2 separate regions of the Homo sapiens genome follow, and region 1 is linked to region 2. The links come from fine-mapping of genetic effects on gene expression. A gene starts in region 2. The other region holds a variant in brackets. All regions are shown on one strand. Distances are from middle to middle.

What was found.
Region 1: its variant is fine-mapped to the expression of CCDC69 in whole blood (INTERVAL, PIP above 0.99).

What each region holds. Positions count from the first base shown.
Region 1 is chr5:151,180,811-151,186,181 of GRCh38, reverse strand. CCDC69 (coiled-coil domain containing 69) reads left to right here. Exons shown (of 9, transcript NM_015621.3): 6 at 58-159; 7 at 641-760; 8 at 1,741-1,838; 9 at 2,568-5,130. The coding sequence ends at 2,745. Among named protein-coding and RNA genes, the nearest start is that of ANXA6, 26 kb to the right of the region's middle. The variant C/A (reference allele first, on the strand shown) is at 2,441.
Region 2 is chr5:151,221,034-151,226,404 of GRCh38, reverse strand. It overlaps CCDC69 (coiled-coil domain containing 69), which reads left to right and starts at 2,313. Exons shown (of 9, transcript NM_015621.3): 1 at 2,313-2,482. The coding sequence starts at 2,435. It overlaps LOC105378230 (a long non-coding RNA gene), which reads right to left. Exons shown (of 4, transcript NR_160730.1): 4 at 2,055-2,929. RefSeq lists silencers at 583-877, 2,361-2,440 and enhancers at 2,561-2,760, 2,781-2,890, 4,311-4,530.

The sequences.
Region 1 (5,371 bases), 40 kb after region 2:
CACCTACAGCATTTATGAGGCAGGCTTTGATTGTCTCCATCCCACTCCCTGCTCCAGGAGACCATAGACAGACTGACCTCACAGCTGGAGGCTTTCCAGGCCAAAATGAAGAGGGTGGAGGAGTCCATTCTGAGCCGAAACTATAAGAAACATATCCAGGTAGGTGGCAGCACCCTGGGCGCTTTTCCTCCTTGAATCTCCAGGGAGGTCAGGGCCGGGCAACAGGAAAGACCAGCCCCTCTTCAAGGACAAGACTCAGACCTGGCACTCTTACCTACACAAGGGCCTGGAAATAAAAGAGTTCCCATTTCACCGATGGGAAAATTAAGGCCCAGAGAGCAGCATCTGGAATAGTAAAGTGCTCACGTTCTGGATTCAGAGAGAACTAGGTGCACATAGCAAACCTGCCACTTAGCACAAGTGACTCAACCTGTCCGAACCACAGTCTCCTCATCTGTGGTGCTAGCACATGTCTCAAAAGGTGATATTCGGATACAGGGAGATAAAGCATATTAAACACTTAACATGGGCTGAGAGAGGAAGGTGGGTGACTTGTGAAAGTCCAACAATGAGTTGCTGGCAGAATGGGGAGGAGGGAGGTAGCCTACTGGCCTAATGAGGTCACTCTGTCCCTGTCTAGGATTATGGGAGCCCCAGCCAGTTCTGGGAGCAGGAGCTGGAGAGCTTACACTTTGTCATCGAGATGAAGAATGAGCGTATTCATGAGCTGGACAGGCGGCTGATCCTCATGGAAACAGTGGTCTGTGACTGGGAGTGGCTGGGGGATGCAGCCTCAGGCTCCCGCTTTCTGGGTGTTTCCTTTGTAAAGCATGCAGAGGGGAGGTGGTTTGAGGAGGTCCCAGCCTAGTTCACTCCAGCTTTGACCTGCCACCTGTGCTGACCACTGAGCATGGTCTGTGGCCAGGCTGGGTCAAGCAGTGGCTCCTTATCATCTGAGTCCTGTGCCTTTTGAGGCTACTGATGTTGCTGTAGCTTGGGTGACACTAGGGCAGGTAGCATTGAGAACACGGGAGGACAGAAGCCTCAGAAACCCTAGGGTTGAATCTAAGCAGAGATTATGTTGCTGTAGAAGTCTCCCTGGCCTCCTGTGTGCCTTACAACTTATAATTAAAAAAATAAAACTAAGGAGTTAACAAAAAGCTGCTGACTTTTAATTTTGCCACATGAGAATGTTTAAAAAAAAAGTCTTACAGGCACTACCATCTCATGTCACCATCCGTTCTTTTCTCAGGAAGGAAAGAGGGTAGGAGGGAGATGGGGAGCCAGGGTGTGTGCCCAGGGAGCCCTGGGGGCTTGAGTCACGTGACATGGAATCACCCACAGGGCTTTATTTTAATCAGATCATCTCAAACATTCCGTATAGATTTTGTTCGCTCATTTTTGTGGAAACACATAACAGACAAACTTAATTTTATTTATATAGATCATATCCTTCTGACTTTTGGAGAACAAAACATATTCTTTCTTCCATGAACTCATGGTGAAATGAGATGGTAGGGCCTGTAATTTTTTTTTACCATTCTCCTGTGGCAAAAAGCCGCAGCCCTTTGTTAACTTTTTAGTTTTACTTTTTTCTAAGTTACCTTATTGCTCCATGAAATGTAACATCTAGTCTAGAATGAATCAGTGCTTTCAGTGACCACAGATAAGAGGGAGGTGACAGCACACATCGTGCAGCGTGAGTTTGGCAGCTTTCTGAGCTCATTCTCATTGTTATAGAAAGAGAAAAATCTGATATTGGAGGAAAAAATTACGACCCTGCAACAGGAAAATGAGGACCTCCATGTCCGAAGCCGCAACCAGGTGGTCCTGTCAAGGTAGCTGTCTTCCTGCCTCCTTTACTCCCATCCCCACCCTTTTTGCCAAAATTCCCAGCTGGGAGAGTCTTAGAGGGGCCTGAGGAATGGACTGACAGGTGGGCCCAGGGCCTATTTAGGGAATGTGGCTCCTCTTTCCCTGGGAGTCAAGAAACCCAAGGGGGCAGTTCTGCTCAGAAACCAAAGTCCCAATGCCTTGATTAGTATCTGTTTGTCTCTGTCCTGGCTGAGTGTACTCTGTGGGAAAGCCCAATATAGGGAGGAGGAAACAGGAAATTTATAGTGCACCAGGCCTAAGTGGAATGAATCAGTTCTTAGGGCTTAGTAAATAAGAGCTAGTATCATGTGTCAGACATAATTTATTGAATACTGTACATATTTTCTCATCTAATCCTCATAATTACTCTAAGAGCTGGGTCCTATTCTTCTTCTTCCCATTTTACAAATGAGAAGACTGAAATTTAAGAAGAATGAATAACTTATTCAAGATTATATAGCTAAGTGGTAGAGCAGAGATTTGAAGCAGCTCAGAACTGCCTGCCTGTCTGTGAGGCCCCCGCTCCTTGGTCAACAGATTGAATTGCCTCTTGTATACAGGCCAA[C/A]AAGGAGGGCAGTGGGGACCCTGCAGCAGGCTGCTGGTCCATCTAAGGAAGGCTTCCTGGGGGAATGGGTTGGTCTCTGTGGCAGCTGCTCCCAGTAGGCAACCCTGGGCTCTGTGTGCATCCACAGGCAGCTGTCAGAAGACCTGCTTCTCACGCGTGAGGCCCTGGAGAAGGAGGTGCAGCTGCGGCGACAGCTCCAGCAGGAGAAGGAGGAGCTGTTGTACCGGGTCCTTGGGGCCAATGCCTCGCCTGCCTTCCCTCTGGCCCCTGTCACTCCCACTGAGGTCTCTTTCCTCGCCACATAGGGTGCAGGGCCTGGGCCCACCACGACGCCTGAAGTCACAGCTCCTTCCAAGGTTTTTCTGGAGAAGACAGCAGGAGCCTCTCAGTTCTTTTCCAGGAAGGAACGAGGGTGGGAGCGAGATGGAGATCCTGGGTGTGTGCCCAGTGAGCCCTGGGGCCTTGAGTTACATGGAATCACCCACAGGGTTTTGGAGGCCCCGAGAAGCGTCTTCCCTTGAGTTGGCCAAGGGAATAAGCAAGAGGAGACATTTCCTCCCTGCCCCAGCACTCTGTCCCAATCCGAGAAGTTCCGAGGCTTTCCCAGGGGCAGTCTGTGTCACGCTGGCCATTTGACATAAAGGAGACAGCCCCTGGTCCCAGCTTGTCAGCTCTGCTGCCGACTTGCTGACTTATCAACTTCCTCTAGGTGTTTCCACTCCACCCTGGCCTGCTCAGAGCCTCAGTTTACCCCTGCATTAAAATGGTGGGGGGACTGGTCAAAGGACTCTTATGTCACTGCAGTGTCCCATTCTAGGATTGTCTGAAGGCCAGAGTAGGGGTTGGGGGGAGTGTGGACAAACCCCGCAAATCAGAGTGGGGAAGGTGAGTGGTAGAGAGGGGGTCTCTGAAGGCCCTTGGGGCTGACAGGGCCAGGCAGCCTCCCCAGCTGAGGCATCATTCCTGGGCCAGAGTCGTGTCCACCAAGGGACAGTAGCCAGAGCTCCTCTTCCTTTACCAGGCAAGGTGCATCCCCTCAGCCCTCCTGGCCCTTCAGTCTTGGTGCCACCTGGGCACAGGGGCAAGCTTGGTGGTTGTGAGTCCATTCATCTATCAGAGCTGGAACCTCATCCCTGCACAGATGAGGAAACCAAGGCATGGAGCAGTTCCCAGAGTCGAATCTAGATCTCATCTGTCATCCGGGTCTTATCCTTTGCTCTGTTTTTCTCTTCAGGCTCTGGAAAATCAGATCTGTGACTTAATCTTCCTCTCCCTGGCCCTCACCCACTTAGTTTCTTTTTCATTCCTGCTCCCTGCCTTAACTCCTCCTCCCACTGCCCCTGATCCCAGGCCCAGGCTTTTACAACCTGGTGCTCAGCTTCCCCATCAGTGAAAAGGGGTGGCTAGAGTAACTAACCTCAGCAGGCCGTCCAGTCCTGATAGTCTGTGGATTTCGGATCCTTCTCAGGAAGCTTCATGTCTAATGGAGACTATAATTATAACTCCTGTTCTGCATAGAGCATTTGCATCAAAGGCTTTCCATACCCCTCCCTCCCCTGGTCCTCATAAGATCCTTGAAGCAGGTTCCTATTCCTCATTGGCAACATGGCAAACAGATCACAGGAGTCAAAGGGCCTTGCTCAAGGTCCCCAGCTTCAGCCCCAGGCCCTAAGCCAGCGTCAGAACAGTCAATCTGCATTTTTCATCAGTCATTCTATAGTGACATCATCCCAGACTGCCTTCTGTATTCCCCTGTGTACAGTCTCCTTCTGTTTCTAGGTTTAGAAGTTCAGAGGTGACTGTGTTTCTCCATTTCCACAGCCAAATGGGGGAAGAGGTGAGGCTAGGGGAGTGCTGTGCTGATTCTCCAGCCATGGTCAGACAGGTCACCCAGGAGCCTCGAGGAAAGCCCTGGAGGGAATCACATGTGTACTTTTTCATGAAGCTTTTTGCAAAGCACATCTGCGATACACTAGTTTATTGAACTAATGTCCAGGAGTAGACATGATTGGTGGCCAAGTTATTTGGGGACACCTAAACAGATCAGTGACCTGAATGACTTCTCAGAACCTTTAATATGCCAATGTGTGTGGCAAACTTACAAGAAGGGAGCTAAGTATCCAGCCTCTCCCAAACCTCTTTGAACAAAGCTTCTGTCCCTCCCACACCTCTCACCTCACAGGCACATCAGGCTGCAGAATGCGCTTTAGAAAGCATTGTTTTAGTCCAGGCACAGTGGCTCACGCCTGTAATCCCAGCACTTTGGGAGGCCGAGGTGGGTGGATCACAAGGTTGGGAGATTGAGACCATCCTGGCTAACACAGTGAAACCCTGTCTCTACTAAAAAAATACAAAAAATTAGCTTGGCGTGGTGGTGGGCGCCTGTAGTCCCAGCAGCTTGGGAGGCTGAGGCTGGAGAATGGTGTGAACCCAGGAGGCGGAGCTTGCAGTGAGCCAAGATCGCGCCACTGCACTCCAGCCCGGGTGACAGAGCAAGACTCCGTCTCAAAAAAAAGAAAAGAAAAAAGAAAGCATTGTTTTAATTGAGAGGGGCAGGGCTGGAGAAGGAGCAAGTTGTGGGGAGCCAGGCTTCCCTCACGCAGCCTGTGGTGGATGTGGGAAGGAGATCAACTTCTCCTCACTCTGGGACAGACGATGTATGGAAACTAAAAAGAACATGCGGCACCTTATTTATGTGACTTTTGTGTTTTTCTGGGAGGGTGGGGAGGTGGGTCTTCACAAGGACTTCTGCCAATGGTGGGGATCTCTGAAGAGTAAATCTGGGGCCTGGGTAGCCCACTCGTGGTTCTGGGCACTCTCCTCAAGCACCAAAGCCCCACTGGCCCTTGCTTTGCCCTAATTGTGGATGTGGGGCCTGGGGCTAGGGTGAAGCCTGGATTAAAGGATGGCCTTCAAAATAGACCAAGGCTT
Region 2 (5,371 bases):
GACAGGGTTTCACCATATTGGTCAGGCTGGTCTCGAACTCCTGACCTCAGGTGATCCATCCACCTCAGCCTCCCAAGGTGCTGGGATTACAGGCATGAGCCACTGTGCCTGGCCTACAAAATTTTTTTTTTTTAAATTAGCTAGGCTTGGTGGCAGGCACTTGTGGTCTCAGCTACTCGGGAGGCTCAGGTGGGAGGATCACTTAAGCCTGGAAGACTGAGGCTGCAGTGAGCCATGATCACTCCACCGCCCTCCAGCCTGGGTGATATTGCAAGATCCTGTCTCAAAAAAAAAAAAACTGTTTTAAAATTTCAAAATCTCACCAATACAGTGGTAGTCACTCAATTTTTTTTTTTAATGAAAATGAGTTTGTTATGTTTTGTAACACAAAAAATTCATCTTCATCAGTATTTTTGCTGGTTATGTGGCATTCTATTTTTATGGATATAGCATAATGTATTTAACCAACCTTCTTTTCTTGGCTGTTTAGGTTGTTTTGGGTTCTTTGTTTTTAATCATGAGCACTGTTCCAATAAACATTGTTAATTTTAGTATAATTTAAGTATATCCTGTTTCTTCAGTACCTGTGGAGCACGTCCTATGGCAGGGGTTCTCAAACTTTAGCCCAGGCCAGACATGAGTGGAGTGCTTATGAAGCCATAGATTCCTAAGCCCCATCCCCAGAGTTTAGGCCAGGGGTGGGGCCCGAGAATTTGCATTTCCAACAAAGGCGGCTGGTAGTGCTGACACTGCTGATTTGGGAATCACACTTTGTGAGCCACCATTCTCTATTATACTTGCTTTTGAGAACCTAATAACACGTTTCCTTAGTTTCCTTTCTTACACACTTTTGCAATTGGTTTTGTACCCTATGGAGGGAGCAATTTTTTTGAGGTCTCATATTCTTTCCCCATTCATGACTCTAAGCCGTTTTCACAGCACACCTTTCCAAGAGTTTTGGGCCTGACTTTAATATTCCAATATACACGCAAATAGGCATACACACTGATTTTCAAAATTGGTTATCTTTTTCCTGCATTGCCATTTCAGAAACCTCAGCTAATAACAAAGAGAAGATAAACAAAAGCTCCTTTTCCTAGACACTGACATTTTATGTCCCATAGTCACCATACCTGGCCTGCCTCAAGAGGTTGTTGTGATGAATAACATCTATCCAAGATGGATAGAGTCAAATATTACAGATGCTTGTGAGGTGGAAAAAACTATCAGCCCAGAAGTGAGGAGGCATTAAAATTAAACTTAGTATTATTGGCCAGGTGTGGGATCCCAGGACTTTGGGAGGCCGAAGCGGGCGGATTACCTGAGGTTGGGAGTTTGAGATCAGCCTGGTCAAAATGGTGAAACTCTGTCTCTACTAAAAATACAAAAATTAGTTGGGTGTCGTGGTGCATGCCTGTAATCCCAGCTACTGGGGAGGCTGAGGCAGGAGAATCACTTGAACCTGGGAGGCAGAGGTTGCAGTGAGCCAAGATCGTGCCACTGCACTCTAGCCTGGGCAATAGAGCGAGACTCTGTCTCAAAAATAAATAAATACAATAAACTTAGTATTATGATTTATTTGTAGGCCATTGAGTCAAAGTTTAGGTTCTGGAGTTAGAACTGTATTCTGTGCAGTGGCTCATGCCTGTAATCCCAACGCTTTGGGAGGCCAGGGTGGGAGGATCGCTTGAGGGCGGTCGTTCAAAATCAGACTGGAAAAAAGAAAAGAATTTGGTTGGGTATGGTGGTGAGCCTCTGTAGTCCCAGCTACTCAGGAGGCTGAGCTGGGAGGCTCGCTTGAGCCCAGGAGTTTGAGGCTGCAGTGAACTATGATAGCGGCAAAAAAAAAAAAAAAAAAGGAACTGGATTCTATCTGGGCTGTGGTAACTTACTAGCCATGTGACCTTAGGCAAATCATGTTGCATCTCTGAACACCATTTTCCTCACCTGTAAAATGGAGGAAGTAATACCTTTGTTGCACTGATATGGCAAGAAATAGAAATAAAATGTATAAAACAACTGGGACAAAAACAGCCCTCAATGAATGATAGTTGTTAGTTTATCAAATAATTGCTTTAATTATTTTTTCCCCCGGCCCTTTCTTAGCTGAGGGTTCGGAAAAGCATCTGTTGCTCCTTGAGGTTTTCTTTTCTTCTGCCCTGACCAGAGCTTCCTATTATTTAGAAGGATTCTGGTCACCTGCCTCTGGTGGCGGCGCCGCTGGCCCTGCGGGCTACACTGAGGCCCCGCTCTTCGGGTATTTACGGCGGGCGGCCGCCCCAGCTCAGGCTCAAGACAGCGCTTCCAGGTTCAGTTTCAGGGTCTCGCCGGCAGCCCCAGCCGGCGGGCGCGGAGCGGGCAGCGGGGCCCGGATCGCAGGCTCCTCTGGGGGCCCCGGAGTTGGGAAGCGGCGTCCGGGAGCCCCCGGAGGAGGATGGGCTGCAGACACAGCAGGCTGAGCAGCTGCAAACCCCCGAAAAAGGTAAAGGGCGCCGGCGGAGAAGTTTGCTTTCAGAGGAGAGGGGAGTGCGGAATCGCTCCGCCGCAGAGGACTCGGCGCCCCGGGCTCTCTCTGGTCGGCCCGGGATACCGGACGGAGAACCTGGAGAGGCCAGCTCAGAGACGAGGGAGGCTCTGCTGGGAGGCGCCCTTTACCCCGGCCCGAGCCGCACCAAGCAGCCGAGTTTACAAACACGGCACCCGGGCCAGGGAAAGGCAGCTGATTCCCGCTGCCTCGGGTGGGGAGATGTCGTGTGTCTGTGGCAGGTGCCCTCTGCTTTCGGTCTGGGGCTGTTCGCTGTGTGGCCATGGACAAGTGACTTGACCTCTCTGGGCCTTCGGCTTCCTCCCCCCGGGGGTTAAAGGCTGATAATCTCAGGGCTGCTCGAAGAGTGTTCCACAGACTCGCAGTATCAGCATCCCTGGGGACCTGTCAGAAATGCAGAATCTCAGGCTCAGGCCCAGTCTTGCCAAGACAGAAGCTGCCTTTTAACAATATGCCCAGGTGATGACGCTTTAAAGTTTGAGGCGCTGGTCTTAGGGCTCTTGCAGGCCCCAGAGCTGGTGAGTGTGGGCTGCCCTTGGGGTAGCTGGGAGGGGCCAAAGAGGGAGGAGATCTACTGCGTTCTGTGGCCCTCTCCTCCCTTCCTGTCCTTCCCCCAAGGGGCCTTGGAGCTGGGTCAGGGCCCAGGGGACAATTCTCAGGTTTCTTGCAGTGAGACCAGCTGCCCCTTGGGGTCTGACGAGCCCAGAAGGTCAGAGCCTGGAGCTAGAAAGATAGCCTCCTCAGGGGACACTGTGAGGCAGAGGGGAAGAAGGACCCTCAAATTCTGGCCCCTTTTCTTACCACTACCTGCCCCCTAGCCAGGTGGGACTAGGTGATCCCTTAAACTTTATCATCATTCCCCCTTGAGACCTTGAGAGGCCCCAAACTGTGACAGTGTTTAATAGTTTTGCAATGAACTTTAGTCCTCCCTCTGCTCCTGCTTTGCTTGTGCCCTGAGTACAGGTTTTTCTGCCTAACAGTAGTCCTAGCCTGGAGGATTCTACTCCCTTCTCTGACACCTCCTGGCTTTCCTTGCTCTCCCTTTATTACCAGATTGAAATTCTCACCAACTCCTGACCTAGAAACCCTCATGTCTTTACTCACTCCAACAGGGAAACTGAGGCTTGGCTCTATCAGTAGAAGGAAGGGGCTGGCTGACAGGGATGACAAGGCGGAGAGACCTGAGCCTTGGCTGAGACTTGTAACTGAGCAAGTGGTAGGCAGACATTAGCCCTGGGTGTAAGTCCTGGTGGTGCCATAAACATACTGGGTGACCCCAAGCAAGCCCTTGTGTCTCCCTGGGTCTCAGTTTCTCCCTGTATGGGGAGTGATGAGCAGGATGATCCCTAAGCATCTGAGAGTCTGTGTTCTCTGCACCTGTGTCAACCTTGTAGCTTGCAAAGTGGACCAAGGGTGAATTCCATCTACCTAGAGGTGGAGGAAACGGGGAAGAGCCTGACCCTTCCACAAGCTGGAAGAGGAGGTCACAGTAAGCACAGGTTCTTTGGCTCCTGCTCCTTCTGAGAGACTTACCAGCTGTTCCTGCCTGTCCCTGGCACAGCCAAAGCTCTGAAGGGCAAGTAAAGCTGGCACAGCCTGTCTGAGTTGGAAAGGGCCTTTGGGTACTACCTGGGCTGACGCACCCACTATACAGATAGGAGGTTAAGGCCTAGAAAAGGGAAGGAGCATGACTGAGGTCACAGAGCAACACAGAGCAGAACCCAGGTATCTAGTCCCCTAGCTCCGTGTTCTTTGTCTCCACCTCCTCCCGCTGTGCTTCCAGTGGCTTCTTGATGACTTTAGCGTAAAATCTTTTACTCCTGTTGCCTCAGAGAACAGCCTGGCATGCCTTCTTGGCCCCAGCCATGCCAGGCCCCTGCCCCTATATGGCAAGATTTATGGGCTGTTTTTGTTTAAAGTTCTCATCCCTGTAGGCTGTGCTCCTGCCCAATTTCTCACCCAGGTGCCAACCCCTTGGAAGGCATGAGCTCCCAAGTTCATCCCCAACAGGCTACCAGCCCCCTGGGAGAGAGGGGGACTCCAGGGATGGGATGGACAAAAATGAGCTCAGGCTACAGAGGGGTTAGGTTCTGATAACCATGACTCACCCTGAGTGTTTACAGCATGCTTTCACATCCCGCCCAGTCTCACAGAAGCCCTGGAAGTTAGGCTGAGCTGCAGAATCTTTCCCACTTTACCGGGGAAACTGAGGCTCAGTGAGGAACGATGGGTCCAAAGTCACACAGCCAGTTGGTGGCAAAGCTGTGCAGTTGAGCCTGGCTTTCTGCACTCCCCATCTGGTGCTCATTGCCTTATACAGATCATGGAGCAGGTGCTTAAGTAGATATTTGAGTGAATGAGGGACAAATAAGAGCCATGCTAGGGGTTGGCCCAGGGAGCAGTAGGAGCATCACATCTAGCCTTGAGAGATGCAGGAAGGGTTTTTGAGGAAGGGTGGTTTGGAAGGTATGGCAGGAGTTACCCACTCATGGCCAAGGCCTAAGCAAAGGCTGAGCCACTGAAAGCACAGCGTGAGGGGGTTCTTTGTGGAGAATGGAGGTGGCAGGCAGCAAGGAATGAGGCAGGCACTTTTAGAAAGGATTATCCTGGCTAGGGACAGGAGCTTGACCATGAGGCCTTCTCATGTCCCTCCAGGTTCAAGGATCTGGGGGTCTGCTGAGTTCTGTGGTCTATGGTGCCTGTTGGGCTTGGCCGACTAGATGTTCTAGACCACCCTGAGAGGCCTGGCCTGGGACTAGGTCACTGCCTTATTGGGACAAGTTGAAATGCTGGGAATAAATGAATAGGGTTCCTGGCAGGCTGGGG